Linked DNA regions of Homo sapiens: regions 1, 2 and 3 are each reported to be linked to region 4. Evidence: microRNA targets listed by miRTarBase, many of them from high-throughput screens and not tested one by one. Region 4 holds a microRNA gene; each other region holds the end of a gene's coding sequence.
Evidence for each region. The annotated mature microRNA hsa-miR-328-5p reads GGGGGGGCAGGAGGGGCUCAGGG and lies in region 4 at 3,735-3,757, opposite strand. An mRNA with a match to its seed (bases 2 to 7 or 8) in the 3' UTR can be bound and repressed. Matches are read on the target gene's strand: a 7mer-m8 pairs with bases 2 to 8, a 7mer-A1 pairs with bases 2 to 7 and ends in A, and an 8mer does both.

Region 1: the mRNA of TACC3 is a reported target of hsa-miR-328-5p. Seed matches in the 3' UTR shown: 7mer-m8 at 4,155-4,161.
Region 2: miRTarBase lists ACOX1 as a target of hsa-miR-328-5p. Seed matches in the 3' UTR shown: 7mer-A1 at 2,439-2,445 and 7mer-A1 at 4,582-4,588.
Region 3: miRTarBase lists BAG5 as a target of hsa-miR-328-5p. Seed matches in the 3' UTR shown: 8mer at 3,069-3,076.

Annotation. Positions count from the first base shown.
Region 1 is chr4:1,744,125-1,749,196 of GRCh38, reverse strand. It overlaps TACC3 (transforming acidic coiled-coil containing protein 3), which reads right to left. Exons shown (of 16, transcript NM_006342.3): 14 at 4,573-4,679; 15 at 4,365-4,485; 16 at 4,026-4,249. The coding sequence ends at 4,184. Among named protein-coding and RNA genes, the nearest start is that of TACC3, 25 kb to the right of the region's middle. RefSeq lists a silencer at 176-375.
Region 2 is chr17:75,942,524-75,947,595 of GRCh38, reverse strand. It overlaps ACOX1 (acyl-CoA oxidase 1), which reads left to right. Exons shown (of 14, transcript NM_004035.7): 14 at 801-5,072. The coding sequence ends at 848. Among named protein-coding and RNA genes, the nearest start is that of FBF1, 4.0 kb to the right of the region's middle.
Region 3 is chr14:103,555,756-103,560,827 of GRCh38, reverse strand. It overlaps BAG5 (BAG cochaperone 5), which reads left to right. Exons shown (of 2, transcript NM_001015048.3): 2 at 1-4,277. The coding sequence ends at 1,007. Among named protein-coding and RNA genes, the nearest start is that of BAG5, 4.4 kb to the left of the region's middle.
Region 4 is chr16:67,198,633-67,203,698 of GRCh38, forward strand. It overlaps MIR328 (microRNA 328), which reads right to left and starts at 3,763; the gene lies at 3,689-3,763. E2F4 (E2F transcription factor 4) reads left to right here. Exons shown (of 10, transcript NM_001950.4): 10 at 1-286. It overlaps ELMO3 (engulfment and cell motility 3), which reads left to right and starts at 499. Exons shown (of 20, transcript NM_024712.5): 1 at 499-772; 2 at 921-961; 3 at 1,052-1,124; 4 at 1,319-1,369; 5 at 1,560-1,729; 6 at 1,819-1,918; 7 at 2,025-2,176; 8 at 2,258-2,336; 9 at 2,753-2,803; 10 at 2,888-3,010; 11 at 3,110-3,241; 12 at 3,345-3,446; 13 at 3,544-3,652; 14 at 3,765-3,901; 6 more. The coding sequence starts at 695.

The DNA of each region.
Region 1 (5,072 bases), not on the chromosome of region 4:
AGGGTTCGTGGTGGGGAGGGGGCAGGGGGAGGGAACAGGTGGGGAGGGGTCGTGGTGGGGGGACAGGTGGGGAGGGGGCGTGATGGGGAGGGGGCACGTTGGGTGGGGAGGGGGCACGGTGGGGAGGGGGCGTGGTGGGGAGGGGGTGCGGTGGGGAGGGAGAGCGGTGGGGAGGGAGAGCAGTGGGGAGGGGGCAGGTGGGGAGGCCCTGTGGGGAGGCCTGGTGCGGGCCCAGGTGGCTCCTCGTCGCCCCAGGGTGGGGGCCCCTCCTGGAGGCCTGTGGCCAGGCGGTAGGAACAGCCTGGCAGGAGTGCGGTCGCGCCGGGTCTGCAGAAGGGGCTCCGGTGGCCCAATGGCGCCCCCTGCAGGCTGTTGGGGTCCAAAGGCTCAGGCAGAAGCCCCAGGAGTTCGGGGTCCCCAGAGCTCGGGGGCAGCCAGGACGTACACGTTCCACCCCTCCAACCCACGGCACAGGTGGCACGCGCACCTGCTACTGGAGCACACCCCAAGGAAGGCCTGGGCTCGGGCAGAAGCCCCTCCTTGGACCTCGTCCAGCCTCAGCCCTGTGGGGACAGGGCTTTTCCCTCACGTGCTCCAGCTTCCTGAGCGGCTGCTGGCCCGGTCCTGCCCCTCACAGAGCTCCCTAAGAGAGACAAGGGATGTGCGCTCAGCCCACCAGGGCAGTCCGGCGCGGCGCCGGGGCTTAGTCCCCAGGCCTCCGGGGGTCCTTCCCAGAAAGTGGAGTGATGGGCTGGAGGAGGGACCTCCGGCAACCACGTGGGCTTGCAGCGACCCTCACTGGCATGGACCTTGGGGACCGAAAGGGGTCTGGGGTTCAGCCTGGGCTGGGGACAGCTCCTGAGTCCATGGGAGGGTGATCTGGGTCTGCCTGCAGGCTGGGTGAACTCTCTCCCGGGGCTCAGGCTGGGTAGGGCAGGGTGGGGGCTGCAGAGGGGTGCCTGGCAGGGAACGCTCGGGCTGTGGTCAGCTTGTCCTGGCCTATCTCCCTCGCCCCCACCCCCTCTTCCATCCAGCCTGGTGGCTGGCGGCCCCTGGAGAGAGCATGGGGGCATGGGAGTGAGCTTGGAGGGGCAGCCCCACCGGCCCTGTTGAAAGGGTCTTGACCAGCCCAGGGAGGCAGCTGCAGGTTCCACTCCTAGGTGGCCTTAGAGGGGTGGGGGTGCCCCACAGACCTAGCTTCTCCATGTGGGCTGAGCCCTGCACTCCCCTCGGGATTTGGATATTGGCTGCAGGGGGAGCTGGGCAGTGGGTGGGCACCAGGCTGGACAGCCCCTCGGACGGCGGGGTCTCATCCTGCCTGGGACCAGATGGCTTGCACCACAGACACGTGTTTCTCTGGGTTCTGGAGGCGCCAAGTCCGCCATCAGGGTGCTGGCGGGTCAGTTCCTCCAAAGTGCTCTCCCGGCCTGCTGCCTTCCCGCAAGGACACTAATCCCAGCAGACCAGGGCCTCACCCTCACGACCTCGTCTAACCCTCACCCCTCCTTCCAATGGGGCACGTCGGGGGGGTGTTTCTGAGCCCTGCCCTGAGCTGTGGGAAGGGCAGAGCCGAGCGCTGCCTCCATGACTGTGTATGAGGACTCCCACGGAGGCAGCCCCCAGGACAGCTCCTGTTTCCTTGAGCCCCCCACAAGGCGACTGCGTGGATGTGCAGGGGGTCCGGGGCTGCGGAAGTCCAGGCCACGGCTGCGTGCCCAGCTCAGGTCATGTTTACCAGGCAGGCCAGTGCCAGGGCCCCCGCCCGGCCTCGCAGCCCTGAGTTAACTCAGGCTCCAGGATAAACACCCATTCAGCCACACAAGGCCCCTTTGTCCTGGGAGAGAGGCTCCCGGCCCAGGACGCTGCCTGGTGGCCGGTGTCCTCGGCGCGGCCCCAGGCCCGGCCAGGTGCCCTGACACGTTCAGCCGCCCTGCACGGCCTTCTCCGGGCAGGCTCCCGGCTTGGCTCAGAGAGGCCCCAGCAGGGGACAGGGCCCTGGGCAGCTGTCAGAGGAGCCAGAAGGCCAGACCGGCAGGGCTGAGTGAGGAGGAGGACCTGGCAGCCGCCTTGTGTCCTGAGACCTTGTCAGAGCAGAGCTGACCCGGCAAAGAGAGGTGGGAGTCCTGCGGCCGGACATGCCTGTGGGCAGCGGGGAGGCCGAGGCGGGCCGTGCTGCCCATAGGGCAGCTGGTGAGCTCTGGAGGCTCGAGGGCCCTTCTTCTCCCCCATATCCTCAACCCCAAGCAGGAGAGGGGGCCCACACCCTGTGCTTGGCCCGTCTCCCCCGGCCAATGGCCACTGGTCTGTGGGCCTCGGTTTCTCGTCTGTGAAGTGGGCCACGGAAGGCTCTCAGAGGCCCCTCAGCCAGGGATTACACCCTATTGTTACCCAGGCTCGGGGCTGAGATGGGGGTTGCTGCCCACGGGAGGGAGGGGCGCGATGGTCCTGGGAAGCCAGTCAGGAGGTGCCGCAGGAGCACAGGTGGGCTGTGGAGGGGGAGGGAGTGGCCCCCAGGCCCCCCTGAGGCTGGCCCAGTCCCTGCCCCAGCCGTGACTGGCCATGGCCCGCTGTGGCCGTCCATCCCTGTGCCAGGCCCCCTCCTCCAAACGTGCTAAGAACAAATGCACCCTCATGCCCTTGGGGACACCCCACTGGCCACCCAGGCTGAAGCCCCTGCCCGCCCCTCAGCCTCCCTGGCGGTCCATGCGGCTTCTTGGCACCCGTGCCCCGCCCCTTCAGGGTGTCACCCACCTGGTCCGGTCCCTGCATGGCCCATGGCGGCAAGCGACCCCTGGCGGCGGCTGGGGGTGTTGTTGCGCCCACCCGAGGTCAGTACTGCAGTGCTGCTCACCAGGCCAAGGGGCAGACTCGCAGAGCCTTGGAAGCAGGTCCTGGGACTGCAACCCCCAGGCTCAGACACTACTGGGGCCAGGTGACTGCGGCCAGATCTCGGCCTGGGTCCCTCCCTATGTGGGGAGCCCCACTCTTCACTGATGGGAGAAAACGGCTTTTCTGGACGGCGTGATCTGGGCACAGCAGCAGCACCGACCCCTGGAAACAGGTTACAGCGTCAACCCTTGGTCTTGCCTGGCCCCTCAGGAGGCCCTGGCCCTCTGGCTGGTGCTGGGGTCCTAGGTGCCATGGCTGAACCCAGTGACCAGCATCTCTCAGCTCGGTACCCAGGTTCCCGGGATGCCCCAGCTGGGCCAAGCCTCTGCCTGACCAGAAGGGCTCCTGGAACTGCCTTGGGTTCCAGTGTGCCTGTCTGAGTTTGAGATCCGCAGGACGGGACTGCTGGAGATGGGGTTAGGGTCGGGGAGGAAGCCCTGCCGTGTGGAGACAGAACTTCCTCAGGGAAGCCTGTTTTGCTCTGAAGTCTCCACGCCCCCAAGGACGAGGACGACAGGAGCTGAGCAGCTGCACCTGCAGGGGGCCTCCCTCCACACCCACACCCAGGTGAGCGCTCAATTAGCTGGGGCTGCAGGCTCGCCAGGTCGGCACCAGAATCAGAGCCACCGGCATGCATGCCTGGCTGTTCACAGTTTTTGTTTTATATGAAAACTTCCCCGTCTCTACTAAAAATACAAAAAATTAGCCGGGCGTGGTGGCGGGCGCCTGTAGTTCCAGCTACTCGGGAGGCTGAAGCAGGAGAATGGCGTGAACCTGGGAGGCGGAGCTTACAGTGAGCCGAGTTCACGCCACTGCACTCCAGCGTGGGTGAGAGACTGTCTCAAAAAAAACAAAAAACAAAAAAACAAACAAAAAAACGAGTCCATTTGGACTTTGATGTGTGTACCTGAGGCCAGGACCATGTAGCCAACCCGAGGTGGCCGGGGCAGACTGGGCAGGCCTGAGCCTCCTCTATCCACTGGCTGTCCCTGCCCCTCGGCAGGGTGGCCTGAGCCTGGGGTAGGCAGGGACCAAGTGGCCAGCTCTGAGGGGAAGGGAGGGCACCTGCGGGTCGGCTCAGCCTCAGGCTAGAGCTGGGAAACCTTTGCTTCATCAAGACCAGAGCGGCTTCAGTGTTTAAATTGAAAGGAAACTTTTATTGAGTCATGTTTTCAAAGCAATCTAGTTTTTAAAAAAGTTGAAGACAAGACAGAAAAAAGAACATGACACCTAAGAGAATCAGACAGGACAGACAGACGGGAGCAGGGGGGCGGGGACAGCGGCTCCGTGGAGGTCAGATCTTCTCCATCTTGGAGATGAGGTCGTCGCAGATCCTGGTCAGCTCCTCGTTCTCTTTAGTCTGGAGGAGGAAGATGAGTTGCGGGGCTTCTCCCTGCTTGGAGGGAGCAGCAGGCCCAAGGGCCTTCTAGAAGGTGCTGCCAGACGGCCCCTTGAGCTGGGCTTCCCGCACCCACCTTCTGCTCCACTGTCTTCTCCAGCGACTGGATGCGCATCTGCTCCTTCCTCAGGCTGGCCTGGAGGGCCAACGCTTCCGCCTGGGCCTTGCTCCGGACCTGGGCGATCTCCTCGTTTGCCCTGGAGGGGTAGGGGCGGGGCAGAGGCTGAGCTGGGGCCCAGGTGCTCAGATTCTCCCTCCAGGGTGGGGCCTCGCCCAGCACTCACAGCTGCAGCTTCTCCTCCGCGTGGGCCTTCAGGGCTTGGTACCTCTGGCCCTCCTGGGTGATCCTTGCCAGGTAATCCTCCACGCACTTCTTCAGTGACTCTTCGTTCTAGGAAGGGGCAGGCATTAGCTGTGGGTACCACGCCGTCTGCTGGAGAGCACCCAGGCTTGGTGTCTGGGGACCTGCAGATCCTCGAGGCTGTCTGGGGCATCAGCCGTGAGCCAGTAGCTCCCGTTTTCCTTTTGGAAAAAGCCCCTTCACACAAGTTCCCAGCTCACCCCCTCTGGAGGTTCAGGACAGCCCTGGCTCTCCACCCTGAGATGCCGGGCCTGAACCTGGTGCCCTCACGGCTGGGCCCCCTCCTGCCACACCTGCAGCCTCTGCTGGCACCAAGTGCTGCTGGAAAGTGGGATGCACCTGGGACCACTGACAGCCCAGCCCGTCTCCCTCTGGAGCTGAGCCCTGTGCTTTGGGGACAGGCAGGGGAGGCCAGCAGGAGCC
Region 2 (5,072 bases), not on the chromosome of region 4:
TGTTTCATCTGAACCTTCATCCCCCTCCTCCTGGGGACTATTTTGAAATAAATCTAAGACATCAGGGCCAGGCTCAGTGATGCACACCTGGGAGGCCGAGGCAGGTGGATCACCTGAGGTCGGGAGTTTGAGACCAGCCTGACCAACATGGAGAAACCTTGTTTCTACTAAAAATACAAAATTAGCCAGGCGTGGTGGCGCATGCCTGTAATCCCAGCTACTTGGGAGGCTGAGACAGGAGAATTGCTTGAGCCTGGGAGGCGGAGGTTGCGGTGAGCCGAGACCATGCCATTGCACTCCAGCCTGGGCAACAAGAGCGAGGCTCCGTTTCAAAAAAAAAAAAAAAACTAAGACATCAGATAATTTTATCCATAAATAATTCAATGCATAGCTCTAAAAGATAAGGACTCTTCAGAAACAACCACAGGCTGGGCACAGTGGCTCACGCCTGTAATCCTAGCACTTTGGGAGGCTGAGGTGGGTGGATCACTTGAATTGAGGAGTTCTAGACCAGCCTGGCCAACATGGTAAACCCCCATCTCTACAAAAAAATACAAATAGCAGCCAGGTGTCATGGCACACACCTGTAGTTCTAGCAACTCGGGAGGCTAAGGTGGGAAGATCGCTGGAGTCTGGGAGGCAGAGGCTGTAGTGAGCCAAGATTGTGCCACTGCACTCCAGCCTGAGCAACAGAGCAGGACTCAGTCTCAAAAAAAAAACAAAAACAAAAACAAAAAACAGTATACTATTTAACATGGCAAACTCTTTATTAGTAGTTCTTCTCTCTCCTTTCCCCACAGGTCCACGAATCTTACAAGCACCTGAAGTCACTGCAGTCCAAGCTCTGAAGTGTCACAAGGACAAGTTTAATCTGCTTCAGAAAGCGCCTGTGTGCAACTCAAATTTTGTGGAATCTTTTTCGAATTCAAATAGCTATAGAGCAAATGATAAATTGACCCCTTTTTATAAATGGAGGGAAAAAATGAACAGATTTCAGAGATTAAATGAAAAAAAGCAGATGTTTTAAGTGCAATTAACACTGAAAGAGACCTGTTAAACCATTCAGAAAAAGCTTAAGAAATGCGATATGACTTCCTTTTGTAATGCTGCTGATCCCAGTAGACTATGACTTTTGATAATTAGCAGAATTTAACTACTGAGTAGTTGATTATTTTCACATTTTAATTGCTAATCACTGGCTATATAAGTGTTTTTAAGCAAAGGTATTTTTGAAGTGGTGTAGAACCCTTCCAAGCTTTCCTGCTCAGTGTTCTACCAGACTTACCCTGGGGCCTGGCTTAAAAGCAGGATTGAAGAAAAGGGACTGGGGGAAGGAAACTTATTGGAAAACTTGATGCGAATGAGTTTCTGCTTGGCACAGTCTCTGCCTGCTTGCTCTCCTTTGCTGATGGATTGCATTTATCAAACTATTCATGCTAGCATTTTTCCAACGAGGGAACTTATTCCGCACGGGCCTACTGTAGGACCATTGTCTCGTGTAATTAGGAATTTTCCATTTGAAGGATTGCTAAATTGTCACAGTAGTAGGAAGTATAGGGAAACCTCTCAGCTGTGGCACTGTTGTAGCTTTGGAGTGCAGAGTGTAACTCTGGGACAATCAGATTTCACATATTCTGTCATCTTGGCATAAGCCATTAAAAGCTTGGAGATTACTGTATTTGGCATTAAAAAAAAATGTCACTTAGGTCAGCACTCCCAGACGTAGCACAGAAAAACCCTTTGACACAAACCATGTGTTCTGATTTTTGGTTCAGAAAATATTGAAACTGTGAGTTGTTTTTTTTTTAACAACTGGGAAAAAACAAAAACAAAAAACTATAGTTAGAAAAATGGAAGTTCCATAGGTTCTATTTCTTACTCTATGTATGGCTTTGTTTTCAGTCTATTTCTAGGAGCTTTCTCTGAATCGCTAATTGTCCTTTCAGTTGAAATCTAATTTATACAATCATTCTATACTTAAAGGTTAAATACATCTTAATTAATTTTTTCTTAAAGTCAATGTAAGTCACTTTGTTTTGTTTTTTTTTAATCTACGCCATATGCCTCATGAAACCAGCTGTTCTAGAATCAGTCCTGAGAATATGGCTTAATTCCATGGAAACATAACTCCTATCTTGGGACCTGACATAATATCTATCTATCCTGGGGAACTGGTAATATGAGACTTATAGGTTACAGCAGAAATGCTACATGTTGACAAAAGCCTTAATCGTTCCACTGGGAGAACTAATTGATAATTGTGTTAAGATTGAAGATTAACCCTGTGTTAATCTCACTTGAGTCTATCCTGACAGTAGTTCAGATTCTGGAAAATGATAAACTGACCTGCTAGATGTAGAATTGTTTCAAAATTAGTGTTGAAATACCTTGTTCACAGATGAATATCTGGGCAGGATCTGAGGGTGTTTGGAATGACACCCCCCAATCCAGTTGCATAGATGGGATGTCTTTGCAGGTTTGAGGAGATCATCGACCTGCAGAGCCCCCTTTGACCCAGTACCTCACGTTTTATTTAAAATCTAAATCTGGGGCCAGGCGTGGTGGCTCACGCCTGTAATCCAAGCACTTTGGGAGGCCGAAGCGGGTGGATCACCTGAGGTCAGGAGTTTGAGACCATCCTGGCCAACATGGTGAAACCCCGTCTCTACTGAAAAAAATACAAAAATTAGCTGGGCATGGTGGTAGCACGCGCCTGTAGTCCCAGCTACTCGGGAGGCTGAGGCAGGATAATCGCTTGAACTTGGCGGGTAGAGGTTGCAGTGAGCCAAGATGGTGCCACTACACTGCAGCCTGGGTGGCTGAGCGAGACTCCGTCTCAAAAAAAAAATCTAAATCTGACATTTGATGCTATTTTTATTAATATTGGAATGTTCTGTCTTGAACTTTATTCAATATAATCAAGAATAAAGATAGAGTAAACGTCACTGATTTGTACTATTAAGAGAGAAAAAATATGCCACACAACTAAACATAGGTTTAAATTATGAAGAAATTTAGAATAGAGGTTTATTAGATTTAGGGAACACTAAGAACAAAAAAGGAAGGAGTGATACCTGCCTGAGTGGACAGCTGTAAATCAGCTGTAATTACTGCAGTTGTACCAATAGTTGTGAGTGGCTCCAGTCACTTTAGGAGTCCTTGGAAGTACTTGGTACACATTTGTTGGCTGTACCTTAAAGGAAGTGGCAAGTCCAGTTTGTTCTCTCTACCACACTAGACTGCCACTGACAAGTTTGGGTCTGTTGGATTCAAAATTTTGTAAGCCATTTTCACAAGTACAAAGATACATTTTAACCTTGTCTTCTCCAAAATTACTGAGTAGGAATTTTATTTTTATCTTTTTGAGACAGGGTATCACTGTCACCCAGACTGGAGTGCAGTGGTGGGATCTTGGCTTACTGTGACCTCTGCCTCCCGGGTTCAAATGGTCCTCCCTCCTCAGTCTCCTGAGTAGCTGGGACGACAGGCACGTGCCACCATGCCCAGCTAATTTGTTCTATTTTTTCTGTAGAGACGGGGTTTTGCCATGTTGCCCAGGCTGGTCTCAGACTCCTGGGCTCAAGCGATCATTTCGCCTCAGCCTCCCAAAGTGCTGAGATTATAGGTGTGAGCCACAGCATCTGGCCCAGAGTGAGGAGAATTAATGAGATTTTTTGTGTGTGTTAGATAATATTGATTTAAGCCTTTTTTTAAAAAGTACTCTCAACCAAATACAAAATTGAAAATGTGAGGTTTAATAGAAATGTGTTGGCTATTTGCAATGGATTTTCTTCTTGCCCAAGTGTTTGGAGTTCTACTTTATGCTCTGTATTTAAAAATTAGTGACCTCAAAGCAGAGTTGATGACACAGGCTTTGGGGCCCTCATGTTCTTGTCTTTAGAACATATCACTACTAAGTATCAGCTTATCTTCAGAACATTACAACATTCACCGTGTTCATATGCTTTCTGAGAAGTCACCACTTGTAATTTCAGATCACATACACCTGAAGGCATTTTATAGTTCCTAAAGTTAACATGTTAGATCTTTTTTTTCCACCCCATGAGGGTCTCACTCTCACCCAGGCTGGAATGCAGTGGTGTGATTGTAGCACACTTTGGCCACCAACTCCTGGGCTCAAGTGATCCTCCTGCTTTGGCCTCCTCTGAGAAGCTGGGATTACTGGTGCACACCACCACACCTGGCTAATTTTTTATTTTTTTTTATTTTTGGAAATAGGGTATGGCTATGTTGCCTTGGGCCCGTCATGAACTCCTAGCCTCAGGTGACCCTCCCACCTCAGGCCTCCCAAAGGGTTGGGATTACAGGAGTGAGCTACTGCACTGGGCCAACATGTTAATTTTTTTTTTTTTTTTTTTGAGATGGAGTCTCCCAGGCGGGAATGCAATGGTGCGATCTCGACTTCACTGCAATCTTCACCTCCCGGGTTCGAGCGATTCTCCCACCTCAGCCTCCTGAGTAGCTGGGATTACAGGCACCTGCCATCACGCTCGGCTAATTTTTGTATTTTGAGCAGAGATGGAGTTTCACCATGTTGGCCAGGTGATCTGCACTCCCACTCCCCCCACACTTCCCAAAGTGCTGGGATTACAGGCATAAGCCACAAGCCACCTCACCCAGCCAACATGTTACATCTTAATTCTTGGATTTTCTTCACTGCAGGGCTTTGGGTGGAGAAATAAAACTCTTCAAATGCATGATCTTGGAGATCCCTGTGAATCAATAATTCTTTAGACAACTGCGGCTCAAAATCCCTCCTTTCCCTTTTCCGAGTTATTCCATCCATCTTATTAGAAAGGAAGTGAATTAGGTGTAGGTGGTCTGTAACACCTGCACATCTTTTTATACGTGTAGAGGGTATGCCTGGGATATATAGGTTGTCTTCAAGCAGTAGCTGCTACTACAGCTAGAGAGAGGAGGAGTGCCAGGAAACTGATGACCTGAGACCAAGAGTCTTGTTGATGTTCTGACTTAGATAAAGGTTTTGATCATTTTCATGAAATAATGCAGGGAAGTCATTTCTGCTGTTTCTTTACTACTCCATTCTTGGA
Region 3 (5,072 bases), not on the chromosome of region 4:
ATAATGGAGGCAACTGCGTAACTGATGAGTTTGAAGAAGGCATCCAAGATATCATTCTGAGGCTGACACATGTTAAAACTGGAGGAAAAATCTCCTTGCGGAAAGCAAGGTATCACACTTTAACCAAAATCTGTGCGGTGCAAGAGATAATCGAAGACTGCATGAAAAAGCAGCCTTCCCTGCCGCTTTCCGAGGATGCACATCCTTCCGTTGCCAAAATCAACTTCGTGATGTGTGAGGTGAACAAGGCCCGAGGGGTCCTGATTGCACTTCTGATGGGTGTGAACAACAATGAGACCTGCAGGCACTTATCCTGTGTGCTCTCGGGGCTGATCGCTGACCTGGATGCTCTAGATGTGTGCGGCCGGACAGAAATCAGAAATTATCGGAGGGAGGTAGTAGAAGATATCAACAAATTATTGAAATATCTGGATTTGGAAGAGGAAGCAGACACAACTAAAGCATTTGACCTGAGACAGAATCATTCCATTTTAAAAATAGAAAAGGTCCTCAAGAGAATGAGAGAAATAAAAAATGAACTTCTCCAAGCACAAAACCCTTCTGAATTGTACCTGAGCTCCAAAACAGAATTGCAGGGTTTAATTGGACAGTTGGATGAGGTAAGTCTTGAAAAAAACCCCTGCATCCGGGAAGCCAGGAGAAGAGCAGTGATCGAGGTGCAAACTCTGATCACATATATTGACTTGAAGGAGGCCCTTGAGAAAAGAAAGCTGTTTGCTTGTGAGGAGCACCCATCCCATAAAGCCGTCTGGAACGTCCTTGGAAACTTGTCTGAGATCCAGGGAGAAGTTCTTTCATTTGATGGAAATCGAACCGATAAGAACTACATCCGGCTGGAAGAGCTGCTCACCAAGCAGCTGCTAGCCCTGGATGCTGTTGATCCGCAGGGAGAAGAGAAGTGTAAGGCTGCCAGGAAACAAGCTGTGAGGCTTGCGCAGAATATTCTCAGCTATCTCGACCTGAAATCTGATGAATGGGAGTACTGAAATACCAGAGATCTCACTTTTGATACTGTTTTGCACTTCATATGTGCTTCTATGTATAGAGAGCTTTCAGTTCATTGATTTATACGTGCATATTTCAGTCTCAGTATTTATGATTGAAGCAAATTCTATTCAGTATCTGCTGCTTTTGATGTTGCAAGACAAATATCATTACAGCACGTTAACTTTTCCATTCGGATCATTATCTGTATGATGTGGTGTGGTTTGTTTGGTTTGTCCTTTTTTTTGCGTTTTTAATCAGAAAACAAAATAGAGGCAGCTTTTGTAGATTTTAAATGGGTTGTGCAAGCATTAAAATGCAGGTCTTTCAGAATCTAGAACTAGGCATAACCTTACATAATACTAGGAAAATTATGAGAAAGGGGAAATTTTTGGTTAAATAAGAGTAAGGTTCAAACACAAGCAGTACATGTTCTGTTTCATTATGCTCGATAGAAGGCTTTTTTTTCACTTATAAGGCCTGATTGGTCCTACCCAGCTTAACGGGGTGGGGTTTTTTTGTTTGTTCAGACAGTCTGTTCTTTTGTAAACATTTTTAGTTGGAAAAACAGCATCTGCATTTTCCCCATCCTCTACGTTTTAGAGAGGAATCTTGTTTTTGTGTGCAACATAAGAAAATTATGAAAACTAATAGCCAAAAAACCTTTGAGATTGCATTAAAGAGAAGGGATAAAGGACCAGCAATAATACCTTGTAAGTTGCTTTTGTTTGTAAAATCTGAGCTTATAGTTTTCCTTAGTGAGTAAATTCATAAGGATGGGAACATTTAAATTAAGTTAATGGGCCTTTAAAAAAAAAAAAAGGAAACACTCATACCTGTAGTTGGAGGATGAATACTGGAGACGGGTTACCAATGTCAGGTTATACTAAAACTAAATCAGAAAGTCTGAATGTAGCACATAATGGTTCTCTTCTGTTGTCCAAGGCTGTAAAATGGACAGCCTTGTCACACCTCCCCGGTGCTGTTTTACAACGTGAGGGTAGACGCTGTCAGTAACCCAGAGGGACCAGGCCTTCCTAGGTTTTCTAGGCAGTCAGCTGTTAACCACTCACTTAGTAAATGTCATAACTACACCTGCTCCAGGACCAATCAGTGAAACCTGCTCGGAATTAAAGGCTTCCTCTGGGTGCCTGCTGAACAACTGAGCTCATGTCATGGGCATGTGGTGGTTTCTCTGTTGCCTGAAAGAGCCATTAAAGTCAGTCGTGCGTGAAGCATCTCTCTTCTAAAGGATGTGTATTTCCATAAATGCTTTCTGAGGATCCGGTACAAAATGATTTCCCAAAGTTCTGAAGTGCCTTGAGAACATGTGGGTCCGAGTGTTATAACAGACTCCTCCCCCGGGTCACCTTTTGCCTGGTCATCCTGTTAGAGTACATCTTTGGAAATCCAGGGTAATATTCTCTTTCAGAGATGCTCATTGTGTAACTCTGTGTAGGGAGATAGTCACTTTAAACAGCTCAAAGTAGCTAGCTAAAGGAGTAGCCTTAAATACCTAAAAGATGACAGAAGCATAGCCCTTAACAAATCTTCAGCTTGTCTCTCAGTATTTCCCAATCATGAAAATCCCTTGCTATGTCTTTCCTACTAGAAATGTTCTAGAATCGCTGGACGGTGGGGTCAGAGGGCAGTCGGTATTTAGGCCGTGAGCTTCCCATACTACTGCAGGTCCAACTCCTGGCAACCGCGGGCTCAAGGCAGGTCATTGGAATCCACGTTTTGGCCACAGTAGTTGTAGGATTGCTTTTCTGTATCATAATTTTAGAATGCTCTTAAAATCTTGAGGAAGAGTTTTTATTTTTTATTTATTTTTGAGATGGAGTCTCTGTTGCCCAGGCTGCAGTGCAGTGGTGCCATCTCAGCTCACTGCAACCTCCACCTCCCAGGTTCAAGCGATTCTCCTGCCTCAGCCACCTGAGTAGCTGGGAGTACAGGCATGTGGCACCATGCCTGGCTAATTTTTGTATTTTTAATAGAGTTGAGATTTCACCATGATGGTCAGGCTGGTCTCGAACTCCTGACCTCGTGATCCGCCCGCCTCGGCCCCCCAAAGTGCTGGGATTAACGGGTGTGAGCCACGGCGCCCAGCCCAGGAAGAGTTTTTAAATTAGAGCTCTGTTTAATTATACCACTGGGAAATCATGGTTACGCTTCAGGCATATTCTTCCCCAGAGTACTACTTACATTTTAAATTTCATTTTGTAAAGTTAAATGTCAGCATTCCCTTTAAAAGTGTCCATTGTTCTTTGAAAGTAGACGTTTCAGTCATTCTTTTCAAACAAGTGTTTGTGTACCTTTTGCCAAGCTGTGGGCATCGTGTGTGAGTACAGGGTGCTCAGCTCTTCCACCGTCATTTTGAATTGTTCACATGGGTAATTGGTCATGGAAATGATCAGATTGACCTTGATTGACTGTCAGGCATGGCTTTGTTTCTGGTTTCAATCTGTTCTCGTTCCTTGTACCGGATTATTCTACTCCTGCAATGAACCCTGTTGACACCGGATTTAGCTCTTGTCGGCCTTCGTGGGGAGCTGTTTGTGTTAATATGAGCTACTGCATGTAATTCTTAAACTGGGCTTGTCACATTGTATTGTATTTTTGTGATCTGTAATGAAAAGAATCTGTACTGCAAGTAAAACCTACTCCCCAAAAATGTGTGGCTTTGGGTCTGCATTAAACGCTGTAGTCCATGTTCATGCCAAAAATGGCTGGGAACGTTTGCTTTATTTACATTCAGTCAGCGTTGCTTTCAGATCACACTTTATCCACACAGGAAAGCCAGTCAGCCTATAATGAAGTAGTTATTAAAATAAATGTAATGAATATGTCTACAAAGTATAGTTTAGTGGTTTATTTTGCTAAAATGCACATATATTTGATATAATTTAGTTTGAGAAGTTCAGCTAGTTTTTCTCCTTTGTTTGACTTTGTCAATTTCTATCTGGTTTTTAAGGGTCTGAGCTTAGCTTGTGCATGCAAGGTTTTGGGTTTTTTTATTTTTTTTTTGAGCACAGCTTTTCACCTTTTAATTTGTTGGGTATTTTTCTCTTAATAAGAGAAATATTGGCCATCGATTTTTACATATAATACAAGTGTGTTTTTCCAGTACATTGGTTCCTGTCCCCTCTCTGTGAACTGTTTGAGTATTGGAACAGTATGTCTTCAATAATTCAATGTTACTTTGAGATACATGTGTTAATATACCCTTAGTTATTCTTGAAATAAAACCAGTCTCTTACGCTTGCAGTGGAGAAAGGCTGTGAGTCTGAGGTGTGTGTTCTCTATATATTATCACCTTCATGAACTGTCTGACCTGGGTGCGGAGCCCTTTTTTTTTTTTTTTTTGAGACGGAGTCTGGCTCTGTCACCCAGGCTGGAGTGCAATAGCGCGATCTCGGCTCACTGCAACCTCCGCCTCCCAGGTTCAAGCAATTCTCCTGCCTCAACCTCCCGAGTAGCTGGGATTACAGGTGCCTGCCACAACGCCTGGCTAATTTTTTGTATTTTTAGTAGAGACAGGGTTTCACCATGTTGGCCAGGATGGTCTCGAACTCCTGACCTCAGGTGATCCACCCGCCTCAGCCTCCCAAAGTGTTGGGACACAGGTGTGAGCCACCGTGCCCAGCTGAGGAGTCCTTCCTTAATGGAGCCCACAGCAGGCAGGCCTGGGGGCAGGTGGCCTCCTTGGCTGCAGTTGGTGGCCATGCTGTAAGGAGGTGAGGGTGGTTGTGTGTGGGCCAGGACCCAGGCCCAGGTGACCAGGTCACTGTGCTCTTGTTGAGACAGCCTAGGAAGTATGTGTGTGATGGGGGTGGGGGCCTCATGCTCTGCTCCCTCAGGAGGATGCCTGGGTCTCAAATAAGAATTGACTTTATTTTTAGAAAGAAGAACCTCTGAGACAGTTCTTGAAAGATCCACTCTCCAGAGGAGAGTTGTGATAGTGTGCTATGAAACCGTCTTCACTGCTTTGTGACGGAGGTGTGGGAGTCTTTCTGTCTATTCGGCCCTTCCCGGCTGTGTGAGGTGTTCTGACTCCGGCCTCCGGC
Region 4 (5,066 bases):
AGAACCTGCAGGTGGTGGGGGCGGCTACCAAGAAGGAACAGAGGTCTCTGGGGAGGAGTCTGGGTGGTCCAGCCCTGATGATTGGCCCCACCTCCTGCTGCCCCATAACCCTCTCTTCATTTCGGCTTTTTCATTTACCCTCATTTAGAGCCATTTGCAGAGATTTAGAAAGATTTACAGTAACGAATGGATTCCTATATAAAGATTATTTTTATACTTTTTGCAGCAAAAGGAAATTGTAATATTTGTACAGTGTTCAAGTGAATAAAAACCATGCCTAAGGCTAGCTCTGATGTGGTTCTTTGGGGACCCTCCTTGGGACTGTGCTGGACTGGCAGTGTGATTGGGTGGGTCACCTTGCTGGAACTAGGGGTGGGGCGGCCTCCGGCAGCCTGCCCTCCCCGCCCCCACCTGCCGCACCTTGGTGTGGGGCGGGGCCGCCTCGGCGGGGCGGGGCAGGCGGAGCCGTCCTACCTTCCTACCCCCAGACTCCAACCCGGAACTAACCTCGGCTCCCTTGGGAAGGCCGCGTTGCATGGCCAGGAGCAGCAGTCTGGGCCGCGAGTGCGGGACACCGAGGTCAGGTCTCGGAAAGGGAGGACCTCCTCGTCCCCAGGGGCCCCAGGCCAGGTGCACCCTTGGCCGCAGGTGCACGGTCTCCGGAAAGTGCAGGCGCCCACGTCCCAGCTGGACCATGGCGCCTCCGCGGAACGTGGTGAAGATTGCCATCAAGATGCGTGACGCCATCCCGCAGCTCATCCAGCTGGACCAGGTCACCCGGCTGGTCCCGCCTCCATCTGCCCCACTGCCCCACCTCCCGGTAGCCCCCTGGCCCTCGGGGCAGCCCGCCCCACCCCTCCCCCCAGGCTCCTCCCCATCCCTCCCTGCCCAGGCCGCGAGAATGACCACTCCACTTGCAGGCGAAGCCCCTGGCCGCTGTGCTGAAGGAGGTGTGCGACGCGTGAGTGCTGCCGGGCCAGGGCCTGCGGAGGGCGGGAGGGCAGGAGGGGCGGCGCCCCCTGCCGGCCTCGCTGAGCCTCGTGCCCCTCAGGTGGAGCCTGACGCACTCTGAGCGTTACGCCCTGCAGTTTGCGGATGGGCACCGGAGATACATCACCGAGAATGTGAGTCCCCTCTCCCCAGCCCCAAGCTCGGCCTTCCGACCCCTCTAACCCACCTGGCCCCGATAACTCTGGCTCTTCATCCCACTACCGGAGCGCGATCTGTTATTCACCCCCAGCCGCCCTCACCGACACCCCAGTTGATCAGTCCTCGGAGCCCTCCCTGACCTCGCTGCCTTTTCTGCTGTCTTCTCCAGAACCGCGCGGAGATCAAGAATGGCAGCATCCTGTGCCTCAGCACGGCCCCAGTAATGCCCCTCCCGTCCCGCCTTCCCCATCCCTGCCCCTTTGCTCCAGGTCCAGAGGCCCCCCGCCCCGGAGGCCCCCGCCCCAGCCCTGCCTTGCGCCACCTAGTTGACGCCCGGGGCCGCACACTTCCAGGTCCCACCCTTACCATGCCCAGCCTCTTCACCTCTGCTCCTGCTCCGTTCCTGCCAGGACCTTGAGGCTGAGCAGCTCTTGGGTGGGCTGCAGAGTAACAGTCCTGAAGGGCGCCGGGAAGCCCTGAGGCGCCTTGTTCCGCTGGCCTCGGACATGATCTTTGCCAGGGAGGTCATCAGCCGTAATGGGCTCCAGATACTAGGCACCATCATTGAAGATGGGGACGAGTGAGCACAGGGATGTGTGGGCTGGGGGAGATGGTGGGTCTTTCTGGTCCTGGGGTGGTCCTGCTCAGCCCCAGATGTCCCCCCTCCAGCCTAGGAGAGGTGCTGGCCCTCAGCCTGAGGGCCTTCTCAGAGCTCATGGAGCACGGCGTGGTGTCCTGGGAGACTCTGAGCATCCCCTTTGTGAGGAAGGTGGGTGGGCTTTCCTAGGGCAGCGGGTGGGGGCAGTGGAGCAGTGGGGCAGTGGTAGACCCGGTCTTCCATGGGGGTGAGGTGGTGACACCCCCGCCCCTTACAGGTGGTGTGCTACGTGAACATGAACCTCATGGATGCCTCCGTGCCTCCCCTGGCCCTTGGGCTGCTGGAGAGTGTGACCTTGAGCAGCCCAGCCCTGGGCCAGCTGGTCAAGAGCGAGGTGCCCCTGGATAGGCTGCTGGTGCACCTACAGGTGTAAGCCTCTGGGGCTGGGGTCCAGATGCAGGGAGCAGGGCTGGAGCCTGAATGTTCCACTGAGCCCTCTTCTTGCCATAGGATGAACCAGCAGCTGCAAACCAAGGCCATGGCCCTGCTGACAGCCTTGCTGCAGGGGGCCAGCCCTGTGGAACGCAAGGTGAGTGTCGATCGGTGGCTAGATGGGGGCAGCACCCGGTGGGCGCTGCCCCACCCTGAAGCAAAATCCTCTAAGCCCCCCTTTTTTTTTTTTTTGAGATGGAGTCTTGCTCTGTCGCCCAGGCTGGAGTGCAGTGGTGCGATCTTGGCTCACTGCAAGCTCTGCCTCCCGGGTTCACACCATTCTCCTGCCTCAGCCTCCCGAGTAGCTGGGACTACAGGCTCCCGCCACCACGCCCAGCTGATTTTTTTTTTTTTTTTTTTTTTTTTAAGTAGAGACGGGGTTTCACTGTGTTAGCCAGGTTGGCCTCCATCTCCTGACCTCGTGATCCGCCCGCCTTGGCCTCCCAAAGTGCTGGGATTACAGGCGTGAGCCACCGCGCCCAGCCTAAGCCCCCTTTCTTTCTACCCCCTCAGCACATGCTTGACTATCTTTGGCAGAGGAACCTTCGCCAGTTCATCTATAAGGTAGGAAGTGGTGGGCCAGGGGGACCTCTCTGCCCCTCCCTCCCCGTGAGCCCTCGCTTACACCAGGGACTGGCTGTCCTGCAGAACATCATCCACAGTGCAGCACCAATGGGCGACGAGATGGCTCATCACCTGTACGTACTGCAGGCTCTCATGCTGGGGCTGCTGGAGCCGCGCATGCGGACGCCCCTGGACCCCTACAGCCAGGTGTGTGTCTTTGGTGAGGACAAGGCAGGGGGTGGCTTAGAGCTTGGCCTTGAATCTATAATCTTGATCCCCTCCCCCGCCACCCAACACTGACCCCAGGAGCAGCGGGAGCAGCTGCAGGTCCTACGCCAGGCTGCCTTCGAGGTGGAGGGGGAGTCCTCGGGTGCCGGGCTAAGTGCTGACCGTCGCCGTTCCCTCTGTGCCCGAGAGTTCCGCAAACTGGGCTTTTCTGTGAGTATCACCCCTACCCAACTCCCCACCCCTGCCTCAGCCCAGGGCTGTTGTTCCAGGCGGCCGTGGCCCTTCTTGAACTGCCTGTGCCCACTTCCCCCAGAACAGCAACCCAGCACAGGACCTGGAGCGCGTGCCCCCCGGTCTGCTGGCCCTGGACAACATGTTGTACTTCTCCAGAAACGCGCCCAGCGCGTACAGCCGGGTCGGTGACAGGGTAGGGTGGGGGGGTGGCAGCATCCCCCAGGCAGGGTCCCCATGGGCTTAGCTGTGACTCCTTGCCCCATTCTCTGCGCCCCCAGTTTGTGTTGGAGAACAGCAGCCGCGAGGACAAGCACGAGTGCCCCTTTGCCCGGGGCAGCATCCAGCTGACGGTGCTGCTGTGTGAGCTGCTCCGTGTTGGGGAGCCCTGTGAGTGGCCTGGACTGGGCACAGCATGGCCAAGAGCAGGGGACGGAAGGGCAGAGAGGGCCAGGGGCTGTATGCACTTTCTCCCTGAGCCCCTCCTGCCCCCCCACTCCAGGCTCTGAGACAGCCCAGGACTTCTCACCCATGTTCTTCGGCCAAGACCAGAGCTTCCACGAGCTCTTCTGTGTGGGCATCCAGCTGTTGAATAAGACCTGGAAGGAGATGCGGGCTACACAGGAGGACTTCGACAAGGTGGGTGGGGTGGGAGCTGGGAGGCCTGGGCCAGGGCAGGGGGCTGATCTGGGTACAGAGCTTAGGCCCTGAGCTGAGCTTGGGCGGCCCCAGGTCATGCAGGTGGTGCGGGAGCAGCTGGCCCGCACTCTGGCCCTGAAGCCCACTTCCCTGGAGCTCTTCCGAACCAAGGTGAATGCGCTCACTTATGGGGAGGTGCTGCGGCTGCGGCAGACTGAACGGCTGCACCAGGAGGGCACACTGGCTCCCCCTATACTGTGAGTCTGGGGGGATGGATCCTCAGTCCTAGCCCTACCTTCCTTGGTGCCCCCTGGGCTACTCCCCAGGTCAGATGTGCTCAGTGACACCCCTCTATCAGGGAGCTGCGGGAGAAGCTGAAGCCAGAGCTCATGGGCCTGATCCGCCAGCAGCGCTTGCTCCGCCTCTGTGAGGGGACGCTCTTCCGCAAGATCAGCAGCCGGCGGCGCCAGGGTCTCTGAATGGGCATGGGCAGGGGGCAGAGGGCAGGCAGAGGGCAGGCAGAGGGCGGCTGGCTTGGTGTCAGGACCTCTCAGCACTCTGGCCCTCTTCCCTTTCTCCACGCAGATAAGCTGTGGTTCTGCTGCCTGTCCCCCAACCACAAGCTGCTGCAGTACGGAGACATGGAGGAGGGCGCCAGCCCGCCTACCCTGGAGAGTCTGCCCGAGCAACGTAAGGCGGGCAGGGGCGGGGGCCAGATACCTGCTCTCCCCAGACCGCCCTGGGCCCCGGGGCTGCCAGGGCTGCAGTGCTCAGCCCAGCCTTCTTCCTGCAGTCCCTGTGGCCGACATGAGGGCACTCCTGACAGGCAAGGACTGCCCCCATGTCCGGGAGAAGGGCTCCGGGAAGCAGAACAAGGTGAGTACAGCGGGCCAGGGGCTCCTTCCCACCCGCCCCCGCCTACCCTGTCCCCTGCTCAGTGTCCCCGCTCCCTTGCTTCCCCAGGACCTCTATGAGTTGGCCTTCTCAATCAGCTATGACCGTGGGGAGGAGGAAGCGTACCTCAACTTCATTGCCCCCTCCAAGCGGGAGGTGAGTGTCCGCCAGGCTGAGGTCGGCAGGTGGGCAGGGGAGGCAGATGGGCAGACCCTCACGGCTCTGTGCCACCCCCAGTTCTACCTGTGGACAGATGGGCTCAGTGCCTTGC